Linked DNA regions of Homo sapiens: region 1 is linked to region 2. The links come from fine-mapping of genetic effects on gene expression. A gene starts in region 2. The other region holds a variant in brackets. All regions are shown on one strand. Distances are from middle to middle. Region 1 has its middle 28 kb from the start of EEIG2. Region 2 holds the start of EEIG2 (EEIG family member 2).

Region 1 (15,131 bases), 27 kb after region 2:
TTTGTGTTTAGAGATTGCAGTAAAGAGAGGCATAAGAAATTATAAAAGTATTAATTTGGGGAACTAATAAATGTCCATGAAATCTTCACAATCCACATTCTTCTGCCATGGCTTCAGCCAGTCCCTCAGTTTGGGGTCCCTGACTTCCCACAACAATAATCCATTAATCAATTTGTTTATTTAACAAATACGTATTGAGTTCCCACTCATTGGTAATGACTCTTCTATGCACTGAAGAAACAGCAATGGACAAGGCAAACAAAATTCCTGCATTCATGAAGCTTCCATTCTGGCAAGTGAGCAAATACGTAATATCAAATAGTAATAACTTCAAAGAAAAAAATAAAATAGAGTAAGAGTATGGGCAGGGACAGTGGGAGGATGCAAGGTGCTATTTTTGATAGATTGGACAAGCCTTCTTAAGGATGTCTGAATGAAGTGCAGGACAAAGCCATAAGTAGATGGTAGAACCGAGTTCCAAGCAGGGGAATAGCAAATACAAAGGCCCTGAGGCAGGAATGAGCTTGCTTCTTTCAAGGAACAATAAGAAGATTTGAGAAGCGTGTGCATTGGAAAGTGTGGTAGAAAATGAAGTCAGAGCAGCCAAGAAGGAGGAGGCCATGAAAAAATGTTTGAATTTTTTTGAGTGTATCAGAAAGCTGTACAAAGGTTTCAAACAGGGAAGTGGCATTATCTGATTTGAATTTTGAAAAGTTCATGCACCCTAGATGTTGTGTGAAGAACTCATTATATGGACATCAGCTATCACTGGATGAGATATGATGGTGGCTTAGATTCATCTGCTCACATGTGGAAGACTGTGGGAGGAGGTTTTTGGAGAGAAGTAAAGAGTTCTGTTGTGTACATGTTAAACTTGAGAAATTTTTAGACAGCCAAGTAGAGACTTTGAGGAGGCAGTTGAATATAGAAATCCAGAACTTCACTGGAATTAATAGCTCTGGAGATAAAAATGTGGAAGTTGTCAATGGCTAGATGTATGAAAAGGCTGGGACCAAATGTGATCATCTGGAGGTGAATATAAATAGAAAAAAGAGCCCACTATTCCTATCAAACTACTAACTTCATTTTTCACAGAAATAGAAAAGACTATTCTAAAATTTGTATGGAACCAAAAAAGCTCACATAGCCAAAGCATCCTAAGCAAAAAGAACAAAGTCAGAGACATCACATTACCTGACTTCAAACTGTACTGCAAGGCTATGGTAACCAAAAAAAGCATGATGCTGGTACAAAAATAGAAAATCACCAATGGAAGGAACAGAATAGAGAACCCAAAAATAAAGCCACACATCTACCGCTAGTAAGCAGTGGGAAAAGGACTCTATTCAATAAATGGTGTCTGGATAACTGGCTGTCCATATGCAGAAGAGTGAATCTGGACCCCTATCTCTTACCATATACAAAGATTAACTCAAGATGGATTAAAGACTTAAATGTAAGACCTGAAACTATAACAGAAGAAAGCCTAGGAAATATCCTTCTCAACATCAGCCTTGGCAAAGAATTTATGACTAAGTCCTCAAAAGCAATTGCAATAAAAGCTAAAATTGACAAGTGGGACCTAATTAAACTGAGGAGCTTCTGAATAGCAAGAGAAACTATCAATGGAGTAAATAGATGACCTAGAGAATGGCAGGAAATATTTGCAAGCTATGTATCTGACAAAAGTCTAATATGCAGAATCTATAAGGAACTTAAATCAACAAGCAAAAAACAAATAACCCTATTAAAAATGGGCAAAGGACATGAAAAGACACTTCTTAAAAAAAGATATACAAGCAGCCAACGAACATGAAAAAATGCTCATCACTAATCATCAGAGAAATGCAAATCAAATCCACAATGAGATACCATCTCACACTTGTCAGAATGGGTTTTGTTAAAATGCCAAAAAATAACAGATGTTGGTGGGGCTGTGGAGAAAAGGAAATGCTTACACATTGTTGCTGGGAATGCAAATTTGTTCAGCCTCTGGGGAGAGCAGTTTGGAGATTTCTCAAAGAAATAAGAATTGAACTACTATTCAACCAAGCAATGACATTACTGAGTTTATACCCAAAGGAAAATAAATCATTCTACTAAAAAGACACATGCACCTGTATGTTCATTGCAGCACTATTCACAATAGCAAAGACATGGACCCCGCCCAGGTGCCCATCAACAGTGGATTGGATAAAGAAAATGTGGTATTAATGCTTATATACCATGGATTACTGTACAGCCATAAAAAAGAATGAAACCATGTTCTTTGCAGCAACATGGATGCAGCTGAAGTAATGAAGAAACAGAAAATCAAATAACACATGTTCTCACTTATAAGTGGGAGCTAAACATGGGGTACACATGGACATAAGGAGGAGAACAATAGACACTTGGAAATACAAGAGTGGGAAGGAAGGGGGGCAAAGGTTGAAAAAATACCTATTGGGTTCTATGCTCACTTCCTGGGTGGTGGGTTTAATCATACTCCAAACCCCAGCATCATGCAATATGCCTTTCTAACAAACCTGCATGTGTACCCTGGAATCTAAAATAAAAATTGAAAAACAAAAGAAAGAAAAGAGAGCCCAGGATGCAATGAAATATATTTAATATTCTGTGAATATTCTTCTTCTTCTTCTTCCCATCACAAATAATAGCCATTGATGATCATTGTCTAGATTCATGAATTCATTAGGGTTTAATATAGTGGTAATCTAATTCTGTCATTCTTTCTTCAATTTACTTGCTGGAATACTTCTATAAGAGAAAATTCAATGACTTAACCTAATAAAAATTTGTTTTTTGCTCAAGCAATAGTCCAGTGAGGCTGCTGCTGATATCTTGACTATACTGGACTCTCTCCTCTAAGCACTAACTCAGATCACTTTCCTCTTGTGATTGTATGCTTTTCTGGGTCTTTGAAATCTTCTCTATTAAGGCGGTGAATGGAAAAAAAGAATAGGGGATCAGATGTGGCAAGATTTTACAGGCCAGGCCTGGAAGTGTGTTCTTTTTCTACCTACATTCCATTGACTACAACAGTCATATGGCTGTACCTAACTGCAAGGGAGGCTGGGATATGTAGTTCAACTGTATGTCCAGTAGGAAAACAGAAATAATTTAGTAAATCATTAACCAGTTTCTGGCCATATGGCCATAAACTTGAAAATACACAATCACGCTCTCTCCCTCCTCTCCCTCCTCTCCCTCCTCTCCCTCTCCCTCTCCCTCTCCCTCTCCCTCTCCCGTCTCCCTCCTCTCCCTCCTCTCCCTCCTCTCCCTCCTCTCCCTCCTCTCCCTCTCTTTCCACGGTCTCCCTCTGATGCAGAGCTGAAGCTGGACTGTACTGCTGCCATCTCCGCTCACTGCAACCCCCCTGCCTGGTTCTCCTGCCTCAGCCTGCCGAGTGCCTGCGACTGCAGGCGCGCGCCACCACGCCTGACTGGTTTTCGTATTTTTTTGGTGGAGACGGGGTTTCGCTGTGTTGGCCGGGCTGGTCTCCAGCTCCTAACCACAAGTGATCCGCCAGCCTCGGCTTCCCGAGGTGCCAGGATTGCAGACAGAGTGTCGTTCACTCAGTGCTCAATGGTGCCCAGGCTGGAGTGCAGTGGCGTGATCTTGGCTCACTACAACCTCCACCTCCCAGCCGCCTGCCTTGGCCTCCCAAAGTGCCGAGATTGCAGCCTCTGCCCGGCCGCCACCCTATCTGGGAAGTGAGGAGCGTCTCTGCCTGGCCACCATCCCATCTAGGAAGTGAGGAGCGTCTCTGCCTGGCCGCCCATCGTCTGAGATGTGGGGAGCGCCTCTGCCCTGCTGCCCCGTCTGGGATGTGAGGAGCGTCTCTGCCAGGCCGCCCCGTCTGAGAAGTGAGGAGCCCCTCCGCCCGGCAGCCACCCCGTCTGGGAAGTGAGGAGCGTCTCCGCCTGGCAGCCACCCTGTCCGGGAGGGAGGTGGGGGTCAGCCCCCGCCCGGCCAGCCGCCCCGTCAGGGAGAGAGGTGGGGGGGTCAGCCACCCGCCCGGCCAGCCGCCCCGTCCGGGAGGTGAGGGGTGCTTCTGCCCGGCCGCCCCTACTGGGAAGTGAGGAGCCCCTCTGCCCGGCTGCCACCCCGGCTGGGAGGTGTACCCAACAGCTCATTGAGAACGGGCCAGGATGACAATGGCGGTTTTGTAGAATAGAAAGGGGGGAAAAGTGGGGAAAAGATTGAGAAATTGGATGGTTGTCGTGTCTGTGTAGAAAGAGGTAGACATGGGAGACTTTTCCTTTTGTGCTGTACTAAGAAAAATTCTTCTTCCTTGGGATCCTGTTGATCTGTGACCTTGCCCCCAACCCTGTGCTCTCTGAAACATGTGCTGTGTCCACTCAGGGTTAAATGGATTAAGGGCGGTGCAAGATGTGCTTTGTTAAACAGATGCTTGAAGGCAGCATGCTCGTTAAAAGTCATCACCACTCCCTAATCTCAAGTACCCAGGGACACAAACACTGCGGAAGGCCGCAGGGTCCTCTGCCTAGGAAAACCAGAGACCTCTGTTCACATGTTTATCTGCTGACCTTCCCTCCACTATTGTCCTGTGACCCTGCCAAATCCCCCTCTGCGAGAAACACCCAAGAATGATCAATTAAAAAAAAAAAAAGAAAAAAAAAAAGAAAATACACAATCACACATTTACAATTTGTGGTAAATGCTGTAAAGTTAAATAATATATATGAATGAGAATAGTTGGCTGGGGGCAGAGAGCTATAATACTTCAGGAAAATCCTTTGCTATGAGATAATATTTAAGCTGAGACCTAACAAATGAGGACAAGAGTGGTAGGAGGAAGAATCTCCTAGGCATGTATGAAGGTCCTGAGGTAGGAAAGAGCTTAGAGAATCCAAGGACCTGCAAGAAGACCAATGCAGCTGAACCTGAAAAGAGAGTTATGAAACAAGGCTAGACAGGTAGGCAAGGCCCATATCATGCAGTGCTCCATAGAATGTGGTAAAGAGTTAGCGTTTAATCGCAATAGCAGTGGAAGGACATAGTATGATTAGTGTTTTTTAGTATTTAATGCTAATAGCGATGGAAAGGCATGATGTGGTATTTCTAACAGAGTGTTAAAATGGGACTCTTCCTGATTCACTGCAGCTGAGGGCCTAATTACCCCCACATTTCAAAGTGCAGTGAGTGAGATCATCTATGGCAGAATTATGAAAGAGGTGCTGAAACCACTTCTGTGGATCTTCACCCCTCTGCCTATCTTAAGGCTATATAGGAACTAAAATTGAAAAGGCCAAGGAGATAGTTGAGTTTTGGAAATTCCCATTGAAAGAATCTCCAATGCATCATGTCTTCCCTACAACCCCATGAGAGATTGGTAGGACAGGTATTTTTACCTTGCCTCAGGTGTGCTAGTGAGGGGTGCTCCAAGGAGACCACATGGAAGGTTTGACCTGTAGCCTCTGGAGTCCATGGGTCACAGAAATACCTGGTAAATAGCTTACTGTCATCAAAGTAAGGAACTGCATTTGGAAAGTTAACTAGTATTGACAGTTTGCATTGGCAGCTCCAAGGTATGAAATCCTTGGGAGGAATATATACGTGCGGTCATTTAAAAGGGGATCATGCTTAAGAGAACTTCTGTCCACACCAGACAACCTTAGCAGACAGAGGCTGGAGACGTGTCTTCAGATTCAGAAGCTGAACGTGGGGCTGGAGTGGGTATGTAAGCATCCAGCTAAGGTCGAGGCTTTGCCTATTTCAATGAGCTCCAATCAGCGGAACTTACAGAGGACTATCTAGGGTGAGGAGATCGAGACCATCCTGGCTAACACGGTGAAACCCCGTCTCTACTAAAAAATACAAAAAAATTAGCCGGGCGTGGTGACGGGCGCCTGTAGTCCCAGCTACTCGGGAGGCTGAGGCAGGAGAATGGCGTGAACCCAGGAGGCGGAGCTTGCGGTGAGCTGATGCGCCACCGCACTCCAGCCTGGGCGACAAAGCGAGACTCCGTTTCAAAAAAAAAAAAAAAAAAAAAAAAAGTCCTGAGAGTAAGAGTCAGCTTTAAACACCTGCCACGGCCAGAGTCTGTCAATGGTAGATTACGCCTGTGTCTGTCACACAAGATCTTTTCTGTTTCTTATCTCTCTTTCCTGGCCCCTCCAACCTTGGCTGGCTGAAGCGGCTGAGACAATGAAGAGGAGGAGGCCAGGAGAGAGGAGCCAGCCCCACCACAAAGGCCGCCAGCCCTAGCAGGTTTGGGGTTTGGGTGGGTGGTGGGGAGGAAGCATTAACTGTAATGAAATTCAGTGTTTCAACCAACACGCTGAACTGGGCATTTTTATTATTGAAATGAGACCATTTTGCGACTGAAAGAGAGAATTCGTATTAACTGACAGCACCAAAAAAAAGTCAAGGGACTTGCCCCAGGC[G/A]CCAGGAAAGAACCTGTCCTGCAGAGCCGGTTTGATCAGGCTGTTGGGAAGAAAAGAATAAAGTTGTTTTCTGTTCTCACTTCAAGGTTTCTGGTTCTGTATAAAAGTTACTTGTTTAAACAATCACACTGGTTGCTGTGTGGAAATCAGACCGGAGGATGGCAGGTGTGAGTGCAAAGGGTCAGTGAGGAGGGGACAGCTGGCTCCTCCACTTCCTAGCTGTGTGATATTGGGAAAGTCAGTTAACTTCTCTGTGCATCAGTTTCTTCATCTTCAAGTGGTGCTAGAATGCTTTATAGGGTTATTGAGAAGAATAAATCAGCTAATGCATTTAAAGCACTTAGAGGGGTACCTGACCCATAGTAAGGATTATAAGGTGTTTGCTACTATTTTTATTTAAAAAATTCTGATTGTAGCAGCCCCAATGTAAGACAGTGTTGACTTGGACTACCTTTAACCAGAGAGCGTGAAAAAGCTCATGATGTATTTTAGAATGATATTCAACAGGGCTTTGTGGGGGATGATTGGATATGGAGACTGAGGCAGAGGGAGAGGACAAGAATCGCTCCCAGGGTTCTGGTTTGGACATCTGGTTGGAATTGAGATGACTGAGTTTGAGCAGGACAAGAATGGTATACAAGCTTAATAGAGATTCCTGGTTACTGATGCTTCAAAAAGTATGCATTTTATTTTATTTTTTAGAGACAGGGTCTCACTGTTGTCTGGGCTGGAGTGCAGTGATGCAATCATAGTTCACTGCAGCCTTGAGCTCTTTGGCTCAAGTGATCCTGCCACTTCAGCCTCTAGAGTAGCTGCGACTACCGGTGTGTGCACATGTCCGGCTAATTTTTGCATTTTTTTAATTGTAGAGATGGGTTCTCACTATGTTGCCCAGGCTGGTCTTGAACTTCTGGCCTCAAGCCATCCTCCTGCCTTGGCCTCCCAAAGTGTTGGAATTACGGGCATGAGCCACTGTGCCTGGCCAGAAAACTGTGATTTAATAGCATTGAAAGCTCTGAGCATCACGGGAGTGATTTTTCTGAAGTGTAAAGGCTCTAAAACAAAGTACTTGTTTTGCTAGGTCACCTTCCGATCCTTTGTCCCACTCTTTTAGATAATGGTGCAGGGGGAGTCTGGGTAATTATATAATAATATGGTTTTCGTTTTGAGAACCAAGAATGACCTCAACAGGCAATCAGTCCTTGCATAATAAACACTGTTAGAAAATAAATGGCATAATATTAACAGTTCTAAAACTAAAGTTACTGTCTTTGACAGATGTCTTCTAAAATTGTTATATGTCTAATAAACTTAGTAAAAAATATATTTATCCAGTGGGGACTGCAATATAGTGACAGGCCTTTTTTTTCAAAAGCACACACATAAATGCATGGATAAAATTTTAGTGCTTATGTTTTAAATACCTTGAATGGCTTGTCACCTTACCTTTGCTATTGGAAGTTGATCTTTGAAACTAAGGTAACAGCCTGATTCCCATCCTAAAGATATGCTGTGGAGATATAGAAACACTGTCCTTTGGTATTAATTTTCTATTTTCTTCCCTACCCTCCTGGGATACAGTGTTGAGAATCAAAATTTCTCTTTCTCCTGAGGTCTTGCCAAAAGCTGTCTTTATTACCCCCTCCTGCCTTGCTAGGGGTTGTGGAAGAGCATTTATGTTAGATGCTAGGGCTGACCAATGAACAAGTGGCTGAGGGCCTTTTTTATTCTCAGTCTTTAAATTTTGTAGAAACTATAAAAGTGACTCGAGTAACTCTTTGTAGACTTGCATATCCCCTCATCAGAACTTTCCTTTTAGTTGTCTTTCTTGACAGCACTCCACTAGGAGAGGCTGGGTCCTTCAGGGCTCTGTGAGTGGGAAGAGCAGGGTGTTCTCTGAGACCTTGGTGTCCATGGTCACACCATCCACCTGGCCTAGGGCCTCATCTGGCTTAATGACTACAGTATTCTTGATGTAGCAAGTATTCTTTTAGGTAAAAATAATAAATCTCCTGCAGTTTAGTGACAGATGTTTGGTTTGGCATGTTACTCTCGCTTTTGGCAAACTCATACGGTGGCGAAGCCAATCCACATGATCCAGAAGGGAGAAAATAAGATCAAATGTTAAAATGCTATACTAATCCCCTAGCAGATAACGGATGGGAGAGGAGGCCTTGGCTTTCAAACAGTGACTATCTTAGATAATAGAGGAAAAATTTGAAATCCATACAGGTACATATCAGGAAGTTAAAGTACCTAAAACCAAATGTTTAATGTTGTTATATCTCCTTTTATTTTTACAGCCATAGTGATCAGCTTGTAACATCCACTTTGAAAATTTCCAAGGCCAACATCATCTCAGTCATGAAGTATGGTACTTTGGGGAATCTATTGGATATTTGTTTATGTACTAGAGTGAACCTGGAACTGCTTATTCCTTTGCTTCCTTAAAAATGTATTTTCTAAAGTCAGCTGATTAGCAAAAAAAAGAAATAAAATTTATTGTCTTTTAATTTTCATCAAAGTAATTGTATACATAGTAAAAATAAGGTAGTGCTGAGGAGTTTATACTGAAAAACAACAGCTGTCTGCCACACTTCCCAGTCCCACTTTCCAGAGGAAAACCGCCTCCCTTTTTTGATAAAAAAAATTACATATTTTTGAGACGGGTTTTACTCTGTTGCCTAGGCTGGAGTGCAGTAGTGTGACCATGGCTCACTATAGCCTTGACCTTCCAAGCTCAGTGGATCCTTCCACCTCGGCCCCTTGGGTAGCTGGGACTACAGGCATGTGCCCCCGTGCCTGGCTAATTTTTTCATTTTTTGTAGAGACAGGGTCTCACTATGTTGCCCAGGCTGGTCTCGAACTCCTGGGCTCAAGCGATCCTCCCACTTCTGCCTCCCAAAGTGCTGGGATTATAGGTATGAGCCACCGTGCCTGACCAAGATTAAAATTTTTAATCACTGATTTTTATCCCTTTATTCCTTTAAACTGCCTCCTGCAAAGTTACAACTGAAAGTAATTTGGTGTGTATCTTTCAAGACTTTATTTCTATGTATTGTACTTATTCTCTATAATAAAAACAAGGATTTAGCTACCCTCTCCCAGTTTTTGATAGCTATTATTATAGTTTTATTCTTGGTTGCTTTTATACCTTTAAATAAAACACTTAAACCTCTAGTTTTTGTCCCATCAGCCATATATAATACCTCTTGACTCCCAGGCTATATTTATATAATCATGATTATTTATTGGATACTTAGTATGGCGACAGGCACTGTTCTAAGTGCTCAGTGAACAAAACAGAGCTCTCAGGCTCATTGGCACTTACATGGTAGTTGGGGGTAGGGGTGTTCAGATACAGAAATTATATAGTAGACATTGATGGGGTGTTCAGATACAGAAATTATATAGTAGACATTGATACATTCAAAATTAAAAAAAGTAAGACAGGAAAAGATAGTTCAGGAATCTGGAAAGTGGGAATAATGATTTTAAATCGGATGGTCAGATTTAACTTCATTGAGAGATGATGTTTGAGCAGACATAAAGGCAGGGAGGATGTTATTCATGTAAGCATTTTAGGGAAGAGAGTTCCAGGCAGAGGCAACAGCAAAGGCTGCAAGGAAGGAGTGTGCCTGGCACATTCAAGGATTACAGGTGGCTAGTAGGGCTAGAATGGAGTGAGCAAAGGGCAGCGTGGTGGAGGATGAGGTCAGAGAGATAACAGGGTGAGATGATATAGGGCTATGTGGATCAATATAAAGAATTTTTGCTTTTACGTTGGGTACAATGAGAAGCCATTGCAAGGTTTTGAGCAGAGTGACACGGTCTGACTTGTGGATATGTATAGCTTCCATGTTGAGAACTGTAGGAAGGCATAGGGGGAGGCAGGGGAGTAGTCGGGAGGCTTTTACAGTCGTCAAGACAGAGATGCTGGTAGTGCTGACCAGGAGATACTCGTGGAGTTGGTGAGAAGAGGTCACATTCTGGAGATATGCTGATGAGACTATTGGCCCTTTTCTCCTTTCTTCCACCTTCTACCCTTCCACCTACCATAATATTCTGTCAAGAATATTATTATTATTTTTTTCTCCTGAAACAGGGTCTTGCTCTGTTACCCAGGCTGGAGTGCAGTGGCGTGATCTTGGCTTACTGCAACCTCCACCTTCTGGGCTCAAGCAATCCTCCTGCCTCAGCTTCCCAAATAGCTGGGACTATAGGCAAGTTCCATCATGCCAGGCTAATTTTTGTATTTTTTGTAGAGATGAGATTTCACCATGTTTCCCAGGCTGGTCTTGAACTCCTGAGTTCAAATGATCCACCCACCCTGGCCTCCCAAAGTGTTGGCATTCCAGGCGTGAGCCATCGGGTCTGGCCTAGACTTTTGTTTTTATGTTTTCAGAGTTAATGCCAAATTCTTTCTTTATTGTAACCCATCTTTTATAAACTGTTGCTTACAGTTTGATTCTGGGAGTTAAATATCAACATAACCCCCCAATTTATGTTATTATGACTATTTAATTAATATTCATTGCATAGGCAAATAATATGCAAAAATTACATTTCCTTTTCTATAGGTCCAAGACCATGACCTCTGGGCTCTTTGAAGAAGGATATTTTAGAGTCTAAATTAAATAAATTCTCTTTCATAGTTACAGAAATTGCTGAAAATTGTGCTACATTTTAGCTGGCTTCATATTTGTATCTTGACTTTTCTATATAATTCTTGTCGTTTTTTTTTTTCCTGGAATTTCCAATTATCTTTCTTTTATCTTGCTGAGAGAAGAAACATATGTTTTCTTCACCATGTCACTGATATCATCTATTTTCATGGTCATTCTATGTTTTGTGTAAACTACATTTCATTTTTCTTCCTGAAGATAGTATTAATGTTATACTTGGGACCCACTGACTCCCTCTCCTGATTTAGATTGTTTTGTAAACCCTATGCACAGCTGTCACTCTGAAATGATTTTTCATTATACTCCTGAGTGAGTTCTACTCTTTCTTGTATTCCATATCTTCCTCTGTTGGTTTGCACTTCACTTCTCTGGAATATCTCCAAAAGTATCTTCGTCAGAAAAAACAGACGGGAGATGAAATTTCTGAGTAATTGAAAATCTGAAAATGTCTTTAGTATGCCTTCACATTGATTTATAGTTAGGTGGAGTACAACATTCTATATTCAAACATTTTTTCCCTTCAGAACTGTGAAGGAATTGTTCTGCTGTCTTTAGCATGGAGTATTACTAATAAGCTTGGGCCGGGCACGGTGGCTCAAGCCTGTAATCCCAGCACTTTGGAAGACTGAGGTGAAAGGATCGCTTGAGCCCAGGAGTTCATGACCAGCCTGGGCAACATGGCAAAATCCTGTCTTTACAAAAAATGCCAAAACTTAGCTGGGTGTTGTGGCTCATGCTTGTAGTCCCAGCTACGCAGGAGGCTAAGGTGAGCAAGACTGTGTCTTGGAGGAAAAAACGAAAAGAAGCAGCAGCTTGATGCTGGTGTATTATTGTTCCTTGGTAGGTGATCTTTTTTCTCTTCCTCTCTAGAGTCTTCCCATGTTCATTGCAACACTATTCCCAATAGCCTAGATGTGGAAACAATCTACATGTCCATTGATAGATAAATGGATCAAGAAACTTTGCTATATACATAAAATGGAATATTATTCAGTCATAAAAAAGGAAATCCAGTCATTTGTGACAACATGGATGAATCTGGAGGACATTACGCTAAGTGAAATAAGCTAGTTGTTCATTTCTATGGCAGAGAGTAGAATGGTGGCTGCCAGGGGCTGAGGGAGGGGAAATAGAGAGGGCTGCCCAGTGGATATAAAGCTTCAGTTATGCAAGATGATTAAGTTCTAGAGATCTGCTGTATAGCATTGTGTTTACAGTTAATAGTACTGTAAACTTAAATTTTTTTCAGAAGGTAGGTCTTATGTGTTCTTACCACAGTAAAGAAATTAATTAACTTAAAAATCTCTTAATATTTAATCTTCCAGAATTTCATAATGTGATGTCTAGTTGATCTTTTTTCATTCATTTTGCCTAGTACTCATTTACACCCTTCACTAGGAATAGTTACATCTTTCTTTAACTCTCGATGAGACATATATACATATATATATATATAGAGAGAGAGAGTGTGTGTGTGTGTGTGTGTACTCACATACATACTAAAGCTTTAAAAGATATTTCATTCCTTGTTTTTTTTCTTTTTGGAACTTCTATTTGCTGGATATAGGATCTTCTGGATTTATTCTGTTTCGTCTTTCTTCTGACATTTCCTCTCTTTTCATCTTTTGCTTTATGTTCCAGGAGAGGGTCTAGGCTGTCTTTCAACCCTTCGATTTTTAAAATGTCAGCAATTATATGCTTAATTTCCCAGAACTCTTTCTTCTTTTGGATTTTTATTTTGGTTTGTGTGTGTGAAGTCAGGGCAGGGTGTAGGAGTATCCAGTCGTAGTTTCATGGAAGCAGTGTCTTTTCAAATGTCTCTGAGAACAGTAATTAAAAATGTAATTTTTTCTATTCCATAGATAATCTCTGCTCTTTTCTTAGGATGAATACTGTTTATCTTGGTCTTTCTTTTTTATGTTGCTTGTTTTCTTTCTTGTGATCTTTAGTTGTCCATCATATTTTAGAATGAGACTTCTAAGTAGCTTTTAGGAGTTTCTTACTCTGATGTATATAAGTCTGTTTTCCCATGGAATATCTGCCAGTAGTTGGGAGCTCTGTGTACCTGGGCGGTGGGCTGGGGCGGGGGCGGGGGGGTGCAGATAATTGATTGTGGTAATGCTGGTTATATAAATTTCAATGGCTTTACATAATAGATGTTTGTTTGTCATCTGTATTGTGGTCCAATGCCTGATTGGCAGGTGGCTTCTTGCATGTGGTGATTCAGAGACCCAGACTCTTTCCCCTGGCACCACTAGCATCTCCGCAGGCCTTGGTGCCTTCTGCCTCTGGCTGGCAGAAGAGTAAATAAGAAAGTGCAAAGGCACACCTACTTTCTTAAAAGCCCTGGCCTGGAAGTGATACACATCACTTCTACTTATATCCCATGTAGTTAAATGACTACATTGGAATGCAAGCGAGGCTGGAAAATATAGTCCCTGGCCTGGAAGTCACCTACCAGAAGAGGCATCACAGTAAGGAATGAGGAACACAAATTTTTGTCACTCATTTCTAGTCATTCCTTTTGAAAATAGACTTATCCACTAGTCATGTTCATTTTAGGGTTAGAATGCTGGAGACTTTTAGTTTTTGCGGGGAGGAATGGGGTTACAAAATGCAAGAATAGAGAGAGCTTTACTTGGGGCACTGGCATCCATTTTCACCATTTCTGATTCTTCTCAGCCAGTTTACTCAATTTTTCAAGAAAAGAAACTTTTTTTTTTTTTTTTTTTTTTTTTTTTTTTTTTTTTTACGGCCAGGATTTCATACTAGTTGGTATTCTGTGTATTTAGGAGTGGGAGACGAGGGTTGGGAGTGTAGGTACATGTCTGGTGTAGACTGTGCACTAGGCAGGCTTTCAGTTAACCCTTCTATTTTACCTCTCCTCTGCCCCTGCCCTCTGAGGCACCTGCCAGCTCAGCCCTGGGCTTCTGTGGGTTTCTGCCGTAGAGACAGACTCACTCTGGCATTAAAATCCCTTCCTGCACATTCTGGGCTGCTGATTCTCTCTTATCTAGCCTTAGGCTTCCAGTCTCTTTCTGTCTTCCATTGTTTTAAACTCTCATCCACTGGTGACCCTCTTACTGTTCTGTTTACTGTTCTGAGTTAACCTCTATGTTATCATTAGGTCTCAGAAAGTAGAGAAGAAAAAGCTTTGTGCTGGGTCTACTGTATTGGACTTGAAGTCCCCAGAACCTTTTCTTGAGGAAATCCCAAGTTTCCCTGCAGGAACCATTCAGGTATTTGTCTAGAGTTCTATTTTGACAAGCTAGTGACTTCGTTTTTCTTCTGTAGAGGGAGGATCTCACTATATTGCCCAGGCTGCATTTATATTTCATTGTCTTAGAAATGTAACTTTTCTAAACAATTCTAAAATTCATATGGAACCAAAAAAGAGCCCACATAGCAAAAACATCCTAAGCAAAAAGAACAAAGCCAGAGACATCACATTACCTGACTTCAAACTATACTACTAGGCTATAGTAACCAAAACAACATGATACTGGTGCAAATATAGACATAGATGAATGGAACAGAATAGATAACCCAGAAATAAAGCCATATAGCTACAACCATCTGATCTTGAACAAAGTTGACAGAAATAAACAATGGAGAAAGAACTCCCTATTCAATAAATGGTGCTGGGAAAACTGACTAACCACATGAAGAAGAATCAAACTGTACCCTTATCTCTCACTATATACAAAATTGTATATATCTCTTACTATATACAAAAAAAGATGGATTAAAGGCTTAAAAGTAAGACCTGAAACTACAAAAATCCTAGCAGAAAACTTAGGAAAAACTCTTCTGGATATTGGCCTAGGCAAATAATTTATGATTAAGAACTGAAAAGCAAATACAATGAAAACAAAAATAGACAAATAATTAAATGAATGAGCTTCTGCACAGCAAAAGAAACAACAGAATAAACTAAGACAACCTACAGAATGGGAGTGATATGGTTTGGCTCTCTGTCCCCACCCAAATCTCATCTCGAATTGTAATCCCCCTAATCCCCATGTGTCGAGGG
Region 2 (15,131 bases):
AGCCAATTAACATAGCCATCAACTCACATATTTATTTTTTTTGCTGTTGGAGAACACTTATGATCTATTCTCTTAGCAATTTTCAAGTATAATACATTATTATTAACTATAGTCAGCATTCTGTACAACAGATCTGAACATATCCATGCCACCTAATTGAAACTTTGTGCCCTATGACCAACAGTTCCCCATCTCTCCGTGCCCTCACCCACTATGAGTTCACCTTTTTTATATCCCACATATATGTGAGATGATGCAGTATTTGCCTTTCTGTGCCTGGCTTATTTCATTTTAAACAAAAGTCCTCCAGGTTCATCCATGTTGTCACAAATGACAGGATTTCCTTTTTTTTTTTTAAAAGGCCGAATAATTTCCATTGTATATACCACATCTTCTTTATCCATTCATCTGTTTACAGACACTTAGGTTGTTTCAATAACTTGGCTATTGTAAATAATGCTGCAAAGACAATAAGAGTACAGAATTCTCTTCAACATACTGATTTCAATTCCTTCGAATGTATACCCAGAAGTGGGGTTGCTGGATCTAGTGTATAAATAATTCTGTGCCATATGGTCAGACAGTACTTTCTACTACTAGTAACTTTTGATAATTTGCTGCTTATTAGTGATTACTAATCTTAAAAAATCAATTTAATGCACTGAAGGGCAAGTTGGTAATATATATCAAAACCCTTAAAAATCTGCATGCCCTGTGACTCTATAATTCCATTTCTAAGTGTTAATCCTAAATAAATAATAATGGATGTATACCAAGCTTGGTTATAAGGATGTTTATTGTAGTTTATTTATAAAACTATTAACAAAAAAGAAAGGAAAGGAGAAAGCCTTTCAAAAGTGACTTGGTTCAATAAGTCATGGAAACTCATACAATAGAATAATATGCACCATTAAAATAATCTTGTAATTGAATATTTAATGATATGAAAAGATACATGAAGTAAAAAACCATACTAAGTATAGTATAATCTCATTTTGGCTTAAAAAGGGTATGTGATAGTTGTGTGGGGGAGTGTGGTCATACATGTATGTGTACAGATCAATAAAGGCTCCTAATTTCTATACTAAAATATTTATAATAGTGATTATCCCTGGGTGGTTCATTTATGGGCAATTTTTGTTCCTTTCTTTCTGCCTTTCTATTTTCTAAGTTGTCCATATGAATCTGTATTACTTTTTCAATAAAGAAATGTTTACTAAAAAGAAATACACAATGTGCAGTGAACTAAAATCTTGAAAACAGAAGGATGTACTCTGGCCAAAAGAAAGAAATCCTTTCCGCTTGTTTAGAGTAAAAGGTCCAATACATAGATGTGCTCATCAGCTTCCCAGACACTCCCCAAATTCACATGTGTTTCTGCCACAGCCTCATGTGAAACTTAGAAAACTATTTGGCTATCAGCACAAAAAAAAAGATGAACAAAATAAGGCAAACTAGGGAATTCTAAAAGATATAGAAAAAATTTCTTCCTATTATTCCTTTGTTTAAGTAGGCCAGAATTAAACCTGCCATGCCAGTTTTAATAAACCTTAAAAGTGATTTAAATGCTTTTGCAAAGGAAGTACGGTGAAAAGATTTAAATACAATAATACTGTCCTTTTGAAACATCTTCAGAAATACAGTCATGTACTGCATGAGGACATTTTGGTCAACAACAGACCAAATACACGATGTGGTCAGAGCAACAGGCTATACGACATAGTCTAAGCACGTAGTAGGCTATACCATCTAGGTTTGTGTAAGTACACTCTATGACTTTTGCACAATGATGAAATCGCCTAAGGATGCACTCCTCAGAACAGATCCTCATTGTTAACTGATACATGACTGTATTTTATTAGACAACAATTTAGCCTCAGTTGAATAGACCACCATAATCGTACAATGTATTTTCCAAATATTTTATTAACTATGGCATGTAAAAATCTGACAATTTACCCTGACCATTTTAATAATATTTATTACAAATAATTACCTTTTAGTCTTTATATTTTTCCAATCTCTTCATTGAAAACAATACCAAGAAAAACTGGCTTCTAAAATTAATTTTCACTAATAATCTTTATTTTTATTTATTTATTTTTGAGACAGAGTCTTACTCTGTTGCCCAGGCTGGAGTGCAGTGGTGGTGATCTCAGCTCACTGCAACCTCTGCCTCCCGGGTTCAAGCGATCCTCCTACCTCAGCCTCCTGAGTAGCTGGCATTACAGGTGCCCACCACCACATCTAGCTAATTTTTTGGTATGTTTTTTGTAGAAATGGGGTTTTGCCATGTTGCCCAGGCTGGTCTCAAACTCCTGAGCTCAACCAATCCGCGTGTCTCGGCCTCCCAAAGTGCTGGGATTTACAGGCATGAGCCACTATGCCTGGCCTTTTTTCACTAATAATCTTTAAAAGGGTAAAAACAATGTAAGGAAATTCTAAATAAGTTTAGTAAGCAGGCCTATATGGCTCCAATAGACAACATCTAAGAAATCCACATACCGCATAAATGCCTCCCACTACTCATCAGGCTGTCACCTCAAATGTAGCATGCTAAGCATACAACTTAACCCACTATATCTTCCACCACCATATGCAATATTCCCCTTAAACAAAACAAATAATTTTCCTGACTTCTTTACTTCTGTGGTGGCGTCAAGGCATCTGTCATAAGATTATCATTTATCAGTCACTTACATGAGACACCTCGGAGTTCAGGTTCTCATTAGCTCCTGCCTGGGTTATTTTAATAGCCTCCTAATTTGTCTCCCCATCTCTAATTTCCCCCCCACCCAACCTTGAATACAGATAGCATCAGCCTGTCAGCCAGGTGATACGCCACTTTAACCACACAACAACTCAGTTCAAGAATCTTAGGTTTAATTTTACCCTATGAGCAGTAGAAAGCAACTCTCATTTATAGAAAGAGAGTAGAAAGAAACTCTTTACAACAGTATTCAAAGTCTTTCTCTAATCTTATCTTCTGCTTCCATTCAACATGAACGCTCTGCAATCAGGCTGATCTATTATCAACTCCTATTGATGACTTGCTCAAGCTGTCCTCCCATCCTCACTTTGTCAATGCAAACTCATCCTCCCAGAGTGCTCCACAGAAATGCCAATGTGGTTGTCAGTAACCATTACAGTTGTAAATTAACTCTTTTGCTTTAGAATTTCAACAACACTCAATATATTGTCTGATCCATTGATTGGGCACTAAGTCACACTGTCTTCTACTGTCAAGCAATTATACATCTATGATCTAATTTCATTAGAAGTAATTCCCTTGTGGATCCTTATATTTGTTGTACTTCTCACAATCCCAGATGGAGAGCTATTAATAGAAACCTGGTAAATGCTCAACTAATACTTGGCCAAGAATAAATGATCTGCATGTTTAGTTGTTGTACAAAGCCAAATATATTAATATATATATCAAATACATATGACCTATATATATTTGGGTCTCTCTATTTATATCTATATATGCAATTTTCTGTGTGCCTCTAAGGCTTTTCTGTAGCAAGATGAGTATTATTTTATAAAGGTTCATCCATCAGGGAGTCTCCAAGACCAATCCTAAGTTTGGTGATTCATTAGGACTCACAGGACTCAGCATACAGTCCTACTCATGGCTAAGGTTTATTACAATGAAAAGATACAAAGTCGAATCAGCACACACTTAACTTCTCTAGAATTAAATTGTGATGTGCTGTCTACCAGGGAAACTCATTAGAGACTCAATGCCCAAAATTTGTATTAGGGCTGGTCACGTAGGCTGCCTAGCAAGAACCAAAATTCCAGATGGAATTTAGCATAAACCACTCCGTACAGTCTAGGCACAGTGAGCCACTCTTATCATTTACGTAAAGTTTTGTATCATGTATGGAACCATTTACCATTCAAGCTCCCAGATGCCAGCCAAGGGCCAGCCTTGTACATAGGCCTTTCTAAGAATAGCAGTCTTGGGCCTGCTATATTACCTCTTTTCTATGTAATTCATTTCATATTTTTACAGGAGAAATGTTACAGTGTTAACTACACCTGACTTTTAAGGGGCACATACAGCAATTTTTTAGAAGTTAAAATCTAGCGTTCAATTAGAGATGCACTGCCTTGACTGGCACCCACTAATTAAAAGTTCTGTGATTTTGAAATAATTCACTTCCTTTAGATATTTCAGATTTTCTTTTTTTTTTTTCTTGTAAAATGAGGTCTCTTTCTCAAACCAACAATTTTGTAGTTGTTAGGATAAAGGAATCAAATATAACATCTCAAGCAAATGGACCTTCTTGGACAAGTTCCTGGTCTCCTCTTTAAATGCCAACTGGGTGCTAAGGCACTGTTTAGGTGTTTTGGGCACATCATCTCACTAAATCCTCACACCACCACATGTCAGTGATGGTTTCTATTTTACATACAGAAGTTTTGGGACTCTAAGTAACCCATCCAGGTTTACCACAGTGGAACTGGGGTTTAGGCTTAGACTCACCGCATTCCAAATCCTTGCTCTTAGCTTTACACCAACTATCTCTACCTAATGTCAAAGGCACAGGCTCCTTATTGTGAGTCATTTCCCCCATACTATATGGCTTTTTGGTTTGGCTACACAGAGCACTATTCCTAATCTTACTTAAAATCAAATTGATCAAAGTCAAATTTTAATTGGAAGAAAAAGGGGTGAGTTTAACCCAAGATACTCAACTTTTTCATTTCTAAGTCTTGCGGAGTATACCCCTTGCTCATTAAAGTCATTAGGAAGCTCCCTATTCAGAAACTTTCATATATGGCACACGATTTATTCCTTTATCTGGCACCACCCTGTTTGAAGTTACACAGACCTGATCAGAATCTTGGCATCGCACTTACCAGCTGAGGGGACCTTAGGAAAGTTAGTTATGCTTTCTGAGCCTCAGTTTATTTATCTACGAAATGGAACCCCTACCTTATAGACTTGCTATGAGAATTAAATAAGATAATATATTTAGAAGCCAACACATATTTGCTGAATAAATGACTGCCTACAACGAAAGAATAAGTGACTTGTGGGAAGTAAGCCAAATAAACATAACTGAGGTAGGAAGGAAGCCCCGTAGACAAGTGCCCTGACCACCAGGTGTCACCACTGGCCCAGGAGCGCCAGTCTAACTGCCTGGCGTCGGGGGTGGCACCCTGCAGCAAAACAGTCTAGGCCTCAGGGCAAGACTGTCACCTGCACCAACAGGACCTTCACGAATCGGCTTAGGCTTTTCAACAAGTAAGAGATGGTCCAATATTTTTTTTGCACCAAAATAGGTTACATTCTTCTCTTACAGGTGTTTAAAATACTTAGCTGAATATCCACTGATGTGTCACCACAGTTTAATTTTAAAAACTGTCTTCGGCAAACTATTAATTTCATATATCCTTTGGTTTAGCCAACTAGACATTTTCTGGCTTCCATAGGCTTCAATATTGCCCCAAAGACAAGTTTCTAGCCCCAATTCCACAATCCAGTGACATTATTTCCTTTATACTATAAATGGGATGACGGAATTTTTTTTAAGTAGAATATTTTTAGGGCAGAAATAAAGCCTAAGACCAGTATATATGGGCAAAATAACATTAACTTTTAACCCTTCTTGATCTCAGGAACTCAAAAGTTCATTTAAAAAATTGTTTTCTCTCTCTATGTATATATTTTAAAGAAAGCACCTTAGGGTACATCTGTCAACCTGTGAGTAGCTCTGAAATTACTCAAGAAACACTGCCACACCTATTATTAATGCCACACCTATTATTTAATAGCTTCATTCTGTAACCTGCTAATGCCTCTCTCTGGGAGTGCCCAGGGGCTCATTTTAAAATGAGGGCAGGGCCTGGGCTCCCCATCTGGCTCTAAGCCCTCCCACAAGGAGACCTACTAGTGGCCACTTCAAGACTAATTCATCCAGCATTAGCGCCTAACTGGAGACGCCGCTCTCTGATGAGGCACAGACCGTTGTCTCGTCTGCCAGGAGCACTTGACTCAAGTCAAGCCTGGCCAGGCCTACCCCAGCCTCAGAGTGGGTGGCCAAGTCCCCTTGTAATCTACAAGGGAGAAGGAATTGTGCTAAGCACAGGTTTCTGTTCAGAGCTGGGCTCTTGGAACTCCTGCAGTTTGGGTTATTTTAGTTTTTAACAGCTCAAGTTCTACTTTGCATTTCACAAATATGGAAATGTCTTAAGAGAAAACAGAAGCATCCTCCCTCTCTGGCCATTGCTCCCATTCCTAGAGGATTTGGGAGGGAAGAGCAGATACCAGGCACCATCTGGAGTCAGGAGCGCAGGAACCAAGGCCAGCTGAGAAGAACCCATTTGCAAAGCACTTTGCAGATCAATAAATTCGACTGATTTTAGAGCGGTCCCTAGGGAAAGGCGAGCAAATGGGCCAAGGAGAGATGCTGCCCATCCAACAAGCCCTGGCCAAGCAGAAAGGGGCGAGGCGGCGCGGGAGGCGAGTTACCTGGAGGACTCGGCGGTGAAGCTGCCGCCGTCCAGCAGCCGCATCTTGCAGAAGAGGACCCCATTGACGAAGGGCACTGAGGAGAGCTCCTCGAGCTCGAAGTCCACCTTAAACTTAAACTTCTTCTTCTTCATCATCGTGAGAGCCAGGCGCCTGCAAGCTGGGCGCACGGCCGGGCGCCGCCGCCTCAGCTTGGCCGAGCCCCGGATCAGCCCAGCCCCATGGCCGGGGCCGCGAGCTGTGCGCGGGGGCGCGGCCGGGGGGCGCCGCAGGCCGGCCGCGGCCGGGGCCGCTGCCGCCGCCTCTCGCGGCAGCCTGGGCCGGAACGCGGCGGCAGCTGCGGCGCGGACCCCGACCGCCCGCGGGGAGCGGTCGTGCTGCAGCTCGCCCGGGGAGGTGAGCGCCCTTTTGGTGCTCAGCTCGCCGCCGCCGCCGCCGCCGCCTCCGCCGCCGCTGCCGCCCGTCTGGGAGTCGGGAGAGGCGAGGCTCGAGGAACCGCCGCCTCAGCGCCTCGGGGGTCGGGGGCGCCCCCAGCGGCCGCGGCCTGCAGCGCACGGCGGGGCGGAAGCCGGAGGGAGGGCGGGGACTTTGTGGGCGGGCGCGGGCTTGGCCGCGGACTCTAACCCGCGACGGCAGTTAGCACGTCACGCCTTTCTGGGGTTAAAAAAAGACAAACCCGACAGAGAAAGCTTCCTTCTACCGCTTCCTCTCCGCCTTTCTTTTCAGTTTTTGCACCGCCTCCTTTCTCCCCCACCCCCTCCAGTGGTTTCTTTCCTTTGGGTTTGAGAGCCATGGGTTAATAGAGGCAATTAAAATCTCAGCGTTGTTTTGGTCAAATTGAAATCCTAAAACTAAAATTTCCGTTAGGTACTCTAAATTCACGAGCCTTCAAATATAAAAGGAAGATAAGGTAGGAAAAAGGAAAATGATGTGCTGAGGGACTATCAAGGGCCCAGGCACCGTACTGCTGCAGGCGCTTTCTCTGGGGTATAGCTTATCTAGTTCCTGTCACCCAGGACAAAAGATAAAAGAGCAAAGAAGCAGTTAAAATAATACCCTCCCTTTAAAAATTTGTCTGTCTATACTGAGAACTGAAATGCTTAAAATCAAATTCTGCAGGCAGTCTGGCATGGCTACGCTGTAATCCCAGCTACTCGGGAGGCTGAGGAGGGAGGTTAGCCTGAGCCGGGGAAGCGGAGCTTGCAATGATCGGAGATCGCGCCACTGCACTCTAGCCTGGGCAACAGAACAAGCCCCTGTCTTAAAAACAAAACAAAATCTTCAGAGCAGGCTTAAAAAAAAATCTCCCTAGGGGAATAACAATTACCTGCCTTCTGTAATCATGCATGTATTGTTACAATGAATGTTACAAAGTTGGTTACGTGATGTTCATGTTTTTAAACTGAGTTATTGTCATTTTCACTCAGATTCTGCCACAGTAATTCTGAAAGGGTTTAATTGAAAATATTTTCTTTCTCAGTTTACTCGTTTACTCATTCATTCATATAAAAAAATTGCTTAAAATGTCAATCATCGGCTAGACCCCATAACCAAAAGCCAATAACTGCCCTCAAGAATTTTACAATCTAGTGAGGAAGACATGTTTAGACAGGTCATTAAAAAAACACAACCTAGCACCAAGCTATGTAGAACTCAGAGAAGCAATTAATTGAAGTTAATCAGTTTTCTGAATTTCAAAGGATGAAAATGATTTGGGACAAAGTGGGGTAAGTTGTTCTAGGAGAAATAAATTAAAAAAAAAAAAAGATTCAGAGGCAGGTTCGGGGGTGGGGATTTGGTAATGGATAAAGCTTCTTACCCTGCAGGACAGGGGGCAAAGACAGTGAGATGCATTTGGGGACTTTGAGATTTGTCATTTAGAGCACTGGATGAATGTTAATTTCATTGACTGAACATTGAAAGCAAGAGGAGGGCAGGTTGGGAATGGAAGAGATAATGAGTCTTTATGGGATCTGCTTGCAGTACATCTAGGGAGAGAGAGGCAGCCTTAGCTCATAAAAATGCATTGGCAATTGAAAATATACATTTGGGAATTGAGGTAATCGCTGATGGCTGAAGCCCAAAAGGTGGATAAGGATGAGTTACTCTGAAGAATATTTAAAGGGTAGGCAAAGAGGAGATCGTGAAGGTGCCTAAGAACAAGCAGTCAAGAGAAAAAGGAGATGAAGAAAGAGATGGCCTGGAAGCCCAGACGGTTTTAATCATGTAACATTCGTAGTTACAAAGTTCTATTGTGTGCCAGGCACTATGCTGGGTACTAGAGATGCAAATGAATAAGACATAGGGGCTTATAAAGGAATGGAGAAAAACAGAGATATGCAAACAGATCAACTAAAGTGTGTGTGTGTGGTATGTGAGTATGTGTGTGTGAGAGAGAGAAGAGAGAGAGAAAGAAAGAGAGAGAGCAATCTGTGATCCATGTAGGACAGAGGACCATTTCAAGAGAGTGCTGCAGAGCAGTCCCAGAGGATTTGGACTGAAAAGAAGCTACTGAATTGAAGGTCTAGGAGGTCATTGGTAATCTTGGCAAGAGAAGTCATCATAAAAGATAGTGACAAAGTAAGATGAAAAGTGACAAAGTAAGTGAAAAGATGACAGTGAAAAGTAAGATAGTGACAAAGTAATGTGGGTAAATAAAAATTATATTTTTATTGATGTTTTTCTGATTTTTTTGTCAGCGAATGAAAAGAGAGAGAGAATGGTGACCAGAGGAGGACAGTTCAATCTTTTTCAATAACATTCAGGAACTATCCAATATTTATTGAGTGTCTATTAGGTGCCAAGCACCTTAATAGGTCCTATGGATTTGAAATGCCGTCCCTGTCTTAGATCTCACGGTCTACTGGAGGACACAGAGAAGTAAGCAGGCAGTTGCAGTACAATGTAACACTGAGTGCTGTCTGTGTATGATGGTGAGTGGAGACTGCTGTGGGAGACTATAAAAGCTAACAGGGATAAGTAGTAGGTTTATGGAATGCCTTCTAGGGTAAGTGAAGCCTGAATTCAGGCCTTTAAGCTGAGGCCTGAATAATGAGCATGGGTGGGGAGCAGTTTCCAGGAAGGAGGTAGTGTCTGTGCAGAGGCTCAAAGGAAGAGAGACCATGTTGCAGAGGGAACTGAAATTAGTTCTGTCTGGCTGCAACTTAGAGTTGGGTACAGTGACAGGGGTTAACAAAGAGCCATTGAAGTTTTAAAGAAGAAGCATGATATATTCAGATTTACATTTTGTAAAGCTCTTCTACTTTATAAAATGGAAGATAGGAGACAGTCTGTTACTGTTTTTTAGACTCATGGTTTGATTATTAAACCCCTGATAGGAGTCATAGTCAAGGCAGGAAACAGATATCATATTCAATGTGTTTAAATGGGGAAAATTTAATGAAAGGACTCTTCACAGAGTTGACAGGGTAAGGGACCCACAGTCTGGTGAGAAGTTGAAAGGAAGAAGGGATAAATATCCTGATTTCTCTCACCTCCTACTTTCTGATCTCTTGGTGGTGCTTCCCATGATCCAAAACCAACCAAGGCCAGAGGGTAGAGGGGCTCGGAACATGCAGTTCATACAGGACAGACTCCTGGGGCACAAAGTAGGGCACTGAAAGGTAGAGAATGGTTGGAGGTAAGGGGATGGAAAGCCACTAGCACACAAAGGATACAGTCAGGGTTCACCATAGGAAGCTGAAACCACTCTGGATGTTTCAAAAAAAAAAAAAAAAAGGGATTTCATTCAGGCACTTCACTGCTTCTGAAATCTGTGGAAGGGCTGAAGGGGTTGAGGTCAGCAGACTGTCGAATTCAAAGTCACATGCTTTGTGGTAAACATTACTAGTGTTCACTAGTATCCGGTCCTCCTTGATTTCTGAGCATATGGGAGTTTACAGTTCCCAATTCCCTTGCGGTTAGTGGGGCCTTGTGATGAGGTCTAGCCAATAAAATGTGAGAAGTAACACGTCACTTCCAGGATGAAACAGTGAAAAGCCTTTGAGCAGTTCTCTAGACTACCTCTTCCCTGCCACAATAGTTATAGAGGAGACCTTGGGTTAAGATGTAGCAGCCACAAGATTGAAGCAGCCCAGATTTCTTAAGTCAGCACATGGAGAGCAACTGCCCACACCTGCAGGAAACATTTTGTCTGTGAGAAAGCAACTTTTATTATATGAAGCCACTGAGATTTTGGGGGATGCTTGTCACTACAGCATAAGTCTAGTTTATTCTGACTAACATACACTGCAGCTGGGATGGGAAGCTGACACTAGAACACTGCTACTGCTGCTGCCACCACCACTGGCTCACACCTGTCAAGACTATGAGGAGTCTGAATGCCACAGGCATGTCATCACACCTTGCTTGCAAGTGACACAGCAGTAAGAAGAGAGCCTCCATTTCACTTGCACCTGTGTTTTCATAAGGAAATTTATTTGGCAGGCCTTATTTGCACCCAAAAATTGAGTGGCAAAGGAGTCTGAGAAATGTAATTTTCAGCTTTCCAACTTCTTCAGATAGGATGGTGGAATGAATGTTGAGGCTAAGTATCTACTCCAGTACTTATAATTCAAGTTTCTTAAAGGCAGGGATGGTTTGCTGATCATCTTTGTATCTTTTCTAAATAGCCCAGTACCTAGTGGGTATTCAATACATGTTTCTTGAAATGACCTGAATTTATAGACCTATCCTAAGTGTGTTAACTCTCAGGTAAAACAACAGAGTGAATAGACATGTGCTAAGACTGCTTACTGCCAGAGGTGTGACAATTCTTACAGGTTTATTCAATTCCCTTGAAAAGCATTTACTACCCCTTAAAAATGCGTACACTCCCCCTTTACCTCTCCCCTACAAAAAGGATATTTAAGTCTCAACCCTCTGGTCTTTCTTTGAGTCTCATATTCGCAGGACTACTCTGTCCATGTGCACTGATAAATTTGTATGCCTTTTCTCCTGTTAATCTGTCTATTGTCAGTCATTTCAGCAAAGCTTCAGAAGGCAGAGGGGAAGCTTTCCCATCAATCTTATACCTACAATAATTTGGTAAGAAAGTAAGATATCTATGAAACCCATAGTTCTATAAGAGGTTGAAAAATGGAATGTTAGTAGGTTATATTTATGGCTGCATTCAGTAAGATATTGGAAACATAAGATGAACTCATGCAATAATTAGCAGGTTTGCAAGCATAAATTAAAAGGAATATAGAGAGTCCAGAAATTTGGAGCCTCAAGGGATGGGAAAAACTAACTGCTCTATACCTCAAAGAATAGGAAATAAGATTGAAAAAGCTCTTGAGCAACAAGGGCCCATTAAGACTCAGCCGTGAAACAAAGATTATATTTAGGGTGTGGTCTTCACATTTAAGTCTGATGTTCTCAAAGTAGCCTCCTTAAATTGAGAGGAAGAGAGGAGTGAAGAAGCAAAGAGATAATCAGGATTGAGAATTATCTCTAGGAAACCTCAGTGTTTCTGGCATATGGAACTGACTGGAAGCAAAAAGATCAAATACTTTTCAGTTTTTGAACTACTGTATTGCTAAAGAAATCATGAGCCTGCGTTAAAAGTTGTACTCTCCTCAAGAAAGTCACGTTCCTCGACACTCATTTTAAATGTGGGCTTAGAGGAAAAATTTCCAGAGGGCAGAGCCAGGGACCACAGAGGACAACAGATAAGCAGATTCCTCACAGATAATGGAAACAGGGTGTAGCTGAGAAACAGCTCCCACTGCCAGCTCAGAGCCATCACAATGCCTCCCTGCAAAATTTCATTTTTGTGATGGGCCAGGGTCCCACTTTTCCCCCTTTCCTACCTGGAAGTATTTACTATATTTGTTCTATCATTATACATTGTGTGTGAGTGAGGGAAGATATTTTATTAGTTCATAAGCCACAGCTCTAATTGAAATGTTAGACTGGACAATTCTTTACAGTGGGGCTGTCCTGTATATTGTACGAGGTTTAGCAGCCTCCCTGGCCCCTACCCATCAGTTGCCAGTATCATCCCCCTCACTCCCAGTTGTGTTAATCAAAAATGTCTTCAGACATTGCCTAATATCTCCTGGGGGACAAAATCATTCTTAGTTGAGAATAACTGGGTTACAGGACGATGTGGAATTATATTCAGATCTGACTGAGAATTCTGTGCATTACATGGAAATCCTGCACTTTGAACTTGATGCAGTGACTGGGTGGATTTTAGGTTATCTCATTTGGTGACAATAATGAGTGTATTATTTATTTGGGAAGAAGAGTGAAATGGCTTTTTTTTGGTATCAGATGGATGGACTATGGCATAGATGACTAGGTCATGACCAAACCTGTTTTCTTGAGTACACAGTTCGACTATGTTTTCCAGTTTCCCTTGCAATTAGGTGCTGCTGCAAGACTGAGTTCCAGCCAGTGGAATGTGTGCAACTTCCAGGCCTGGCCCATAAAAACCTCTTGCATATGACCCTTTCACTCTTCTCCCATCTGATAGCTGGATGTTGACGTCAAGGATGATGCTAGACGCCAGATGTGGAAGATAGAAAAGCCTCTACCTGCCTGGGTCCCTATTGGCAATTTATAACCAGGAAATCGATCTGTGAGGTTAAGTGAGAAATTAGCATTTAATTTGCTGTGTGTGATTTTAAACATTACTGTTTTAAAAAATTGTGGAAAAATACATATGACATAAAATTGACCATGTTAACCATTTTTAAGTGCACAGTTCTGTGGCATTAAGTACAGTCACATAGTTGTGCAACCATCACCCCCATCCTTCTCCAGAAGTCTTTTCATCTTGCAAAACTGAGATTCTGTACCCATTTAACAATAACTCCCCATTCCCTGGAAACCACTCTTCTACCTTGCGTCTCTATGAATGGAATCACACAATATTTGTCCTTCTGTAACTGGCTTATTCACTTAAACATTTAATCTTTTAAGCCACTGAAATTTGGGATGTGTTTGTTATAACAGCTAGAATTACATACTGTATGCCTGGAACAGAGCAGATCCTCAAATAAATGTTTGCTGAGTAAGTGAACATTCAAATATTGTTAATTTGAAACATATGTTTAGGACATTATGTTGTATTTAATTTATAAATTTATATTGTTTTATAATGATATAAAAGTTATAAGATATTTAATTTTATGTGTAATATACACTTAGGTAACATTATAATTATGATAATTTAAATCAACATCAGGAGTCCATGACTTTTTACCCCATACATCATTTATTTTTGGGAAAAACTGCTATATTGGGTTGTTTGAAAAAGCATATATTCTAAGAAAACTGAATCAAGTACTTGCTTTAATTTTCCATTGCCTAAAACCAAACTTGACTAGAGTTGTTGAGGATTCATTATCAGATAATGACCTAGGAGCTTGAATAATTACATTCCCAGCCAAGCAAAAAGTTTTTTAGTTTACATCAAAGGGAATATGACAGTTAAAAAAAAAAAACCAGCAACAAAAAAAAGCCTCTCTCTTTGGCCTATGGTTGAATAGGGATGTTATTGATACCTAAATACTGACATTTTATCATCTTGATTACTAGTCTGTCTGACAGGAGAATAAAGGCTTTCAAGGAAAGAACCAGATACTTTCTGAGGCACCTCCTTTAATTCTAAAACTTGATCTCTTTCATAACTAGTTCTTTTTCATCTAATTTTCAAATTTCTATGGGAAGATGGCAAATTGCCTTTGTAATTCTTAAAAGCAACACTAGATTATATACTTTTCTATCAGAAACCACAATATTTGTTCTATAACTTCTTTCCAGTCAAGACATATCTAGAGTGGATCAAAAAGTGTTCTTTGAGTAATTGTAATATCTCTAAGAACTCTAGACTGATAGCATGTGGGTGATCTCAACTCCAATTTTGCCCCCCACTTCCTTGCCTCCTTCACATTCTAATGTTAGGATAGCTATGGGGATGATCACTTCCTAACCTCATATAATTATTCCTGTCCCGCCAAGCAGAACTGGATAGCTCTTTCTGGGAAATACTAAATACTAATTTTATAAACACATACATTTATGGAAGTTGTAGAAAGTAGGCTCTTTCTCTAAGAAAGAGCATTTTAGAAAATACTGATGCTTTCTAAAACAGTTGCGAAAATCTTTTAAGAATTTAAACCAAACCCACCTTAAATTCCAAATCTGGAAAATCTTAGTAATTTGTTGATTTACTTTGCTTATATAACCTGTACATATGTGTATGTGGAAATGCTTGGGAGATGTGTGTTTTTTTCCAATTAGTCTGGTTCCCATCTCCTTAGAGGTGCACTATATCATGTTTTCTGTCATTGTACTTTTTTCTTTCTTAAGACCAATTTTCTTGCAGTTCTTTGGTACGCACTCAATAGCTGGTGATGTTGTATTAAAATATGGCCTTTGTTTTTAAATTTAAAAAATCCCCTTTGTTTTTTGAAAAAAGTAACTTGTTGATTTGGATCCAAATAATTTTCAAAAATTAATAAACCAAAGAGGAATGCTTTTAAAAAACCAAAGCAAAAAGCACATTTGACCAGAGCCTATGCTGTGCCTTTTCTAAGTAAATGGTCACAAGACCAGAATACTATAATATTTTATTTAGTTAGATACCTGGAAAGTATTTTTAAAATTAGCATTATTTTTTCTTTCTATACCA

What was found.
Region 1: its variant is fine-mapped to the expression of EEIG2 in nasal epithelium (TOPMed, PIP above 0.99).

Annotation. Positions count from the first base shown.
Region 1 is chr1:108,524,987-108,540,117 of GRCh38, reverse strand. No RefSeq gene overlaps it. Among named protein-coding and RNA genes, the nearest start is that of EEIG2, 28 kb to the left of the region's middle. RefSeq lists an enhancer at 2,957-3,251 and a cis regulatory region at 5,918-6,493. The variant G/A (reference allele first, on the strand shown) is at 6,414.
Region 2 is chr1:108,551,922-108,567,052 of GRCh38, reverse strand. EEIG2 (EEIG family member 2) reads right to left here and starts at 6,953. Exons shown (of 11, transcript NM_001010883.3): 1 at 6,488-6,953. The coding sequence starts at 6,624. RefSeq lists enhancers at 5,750-5,799, 6,263-6,362 and a silencer at 6,753-7,292.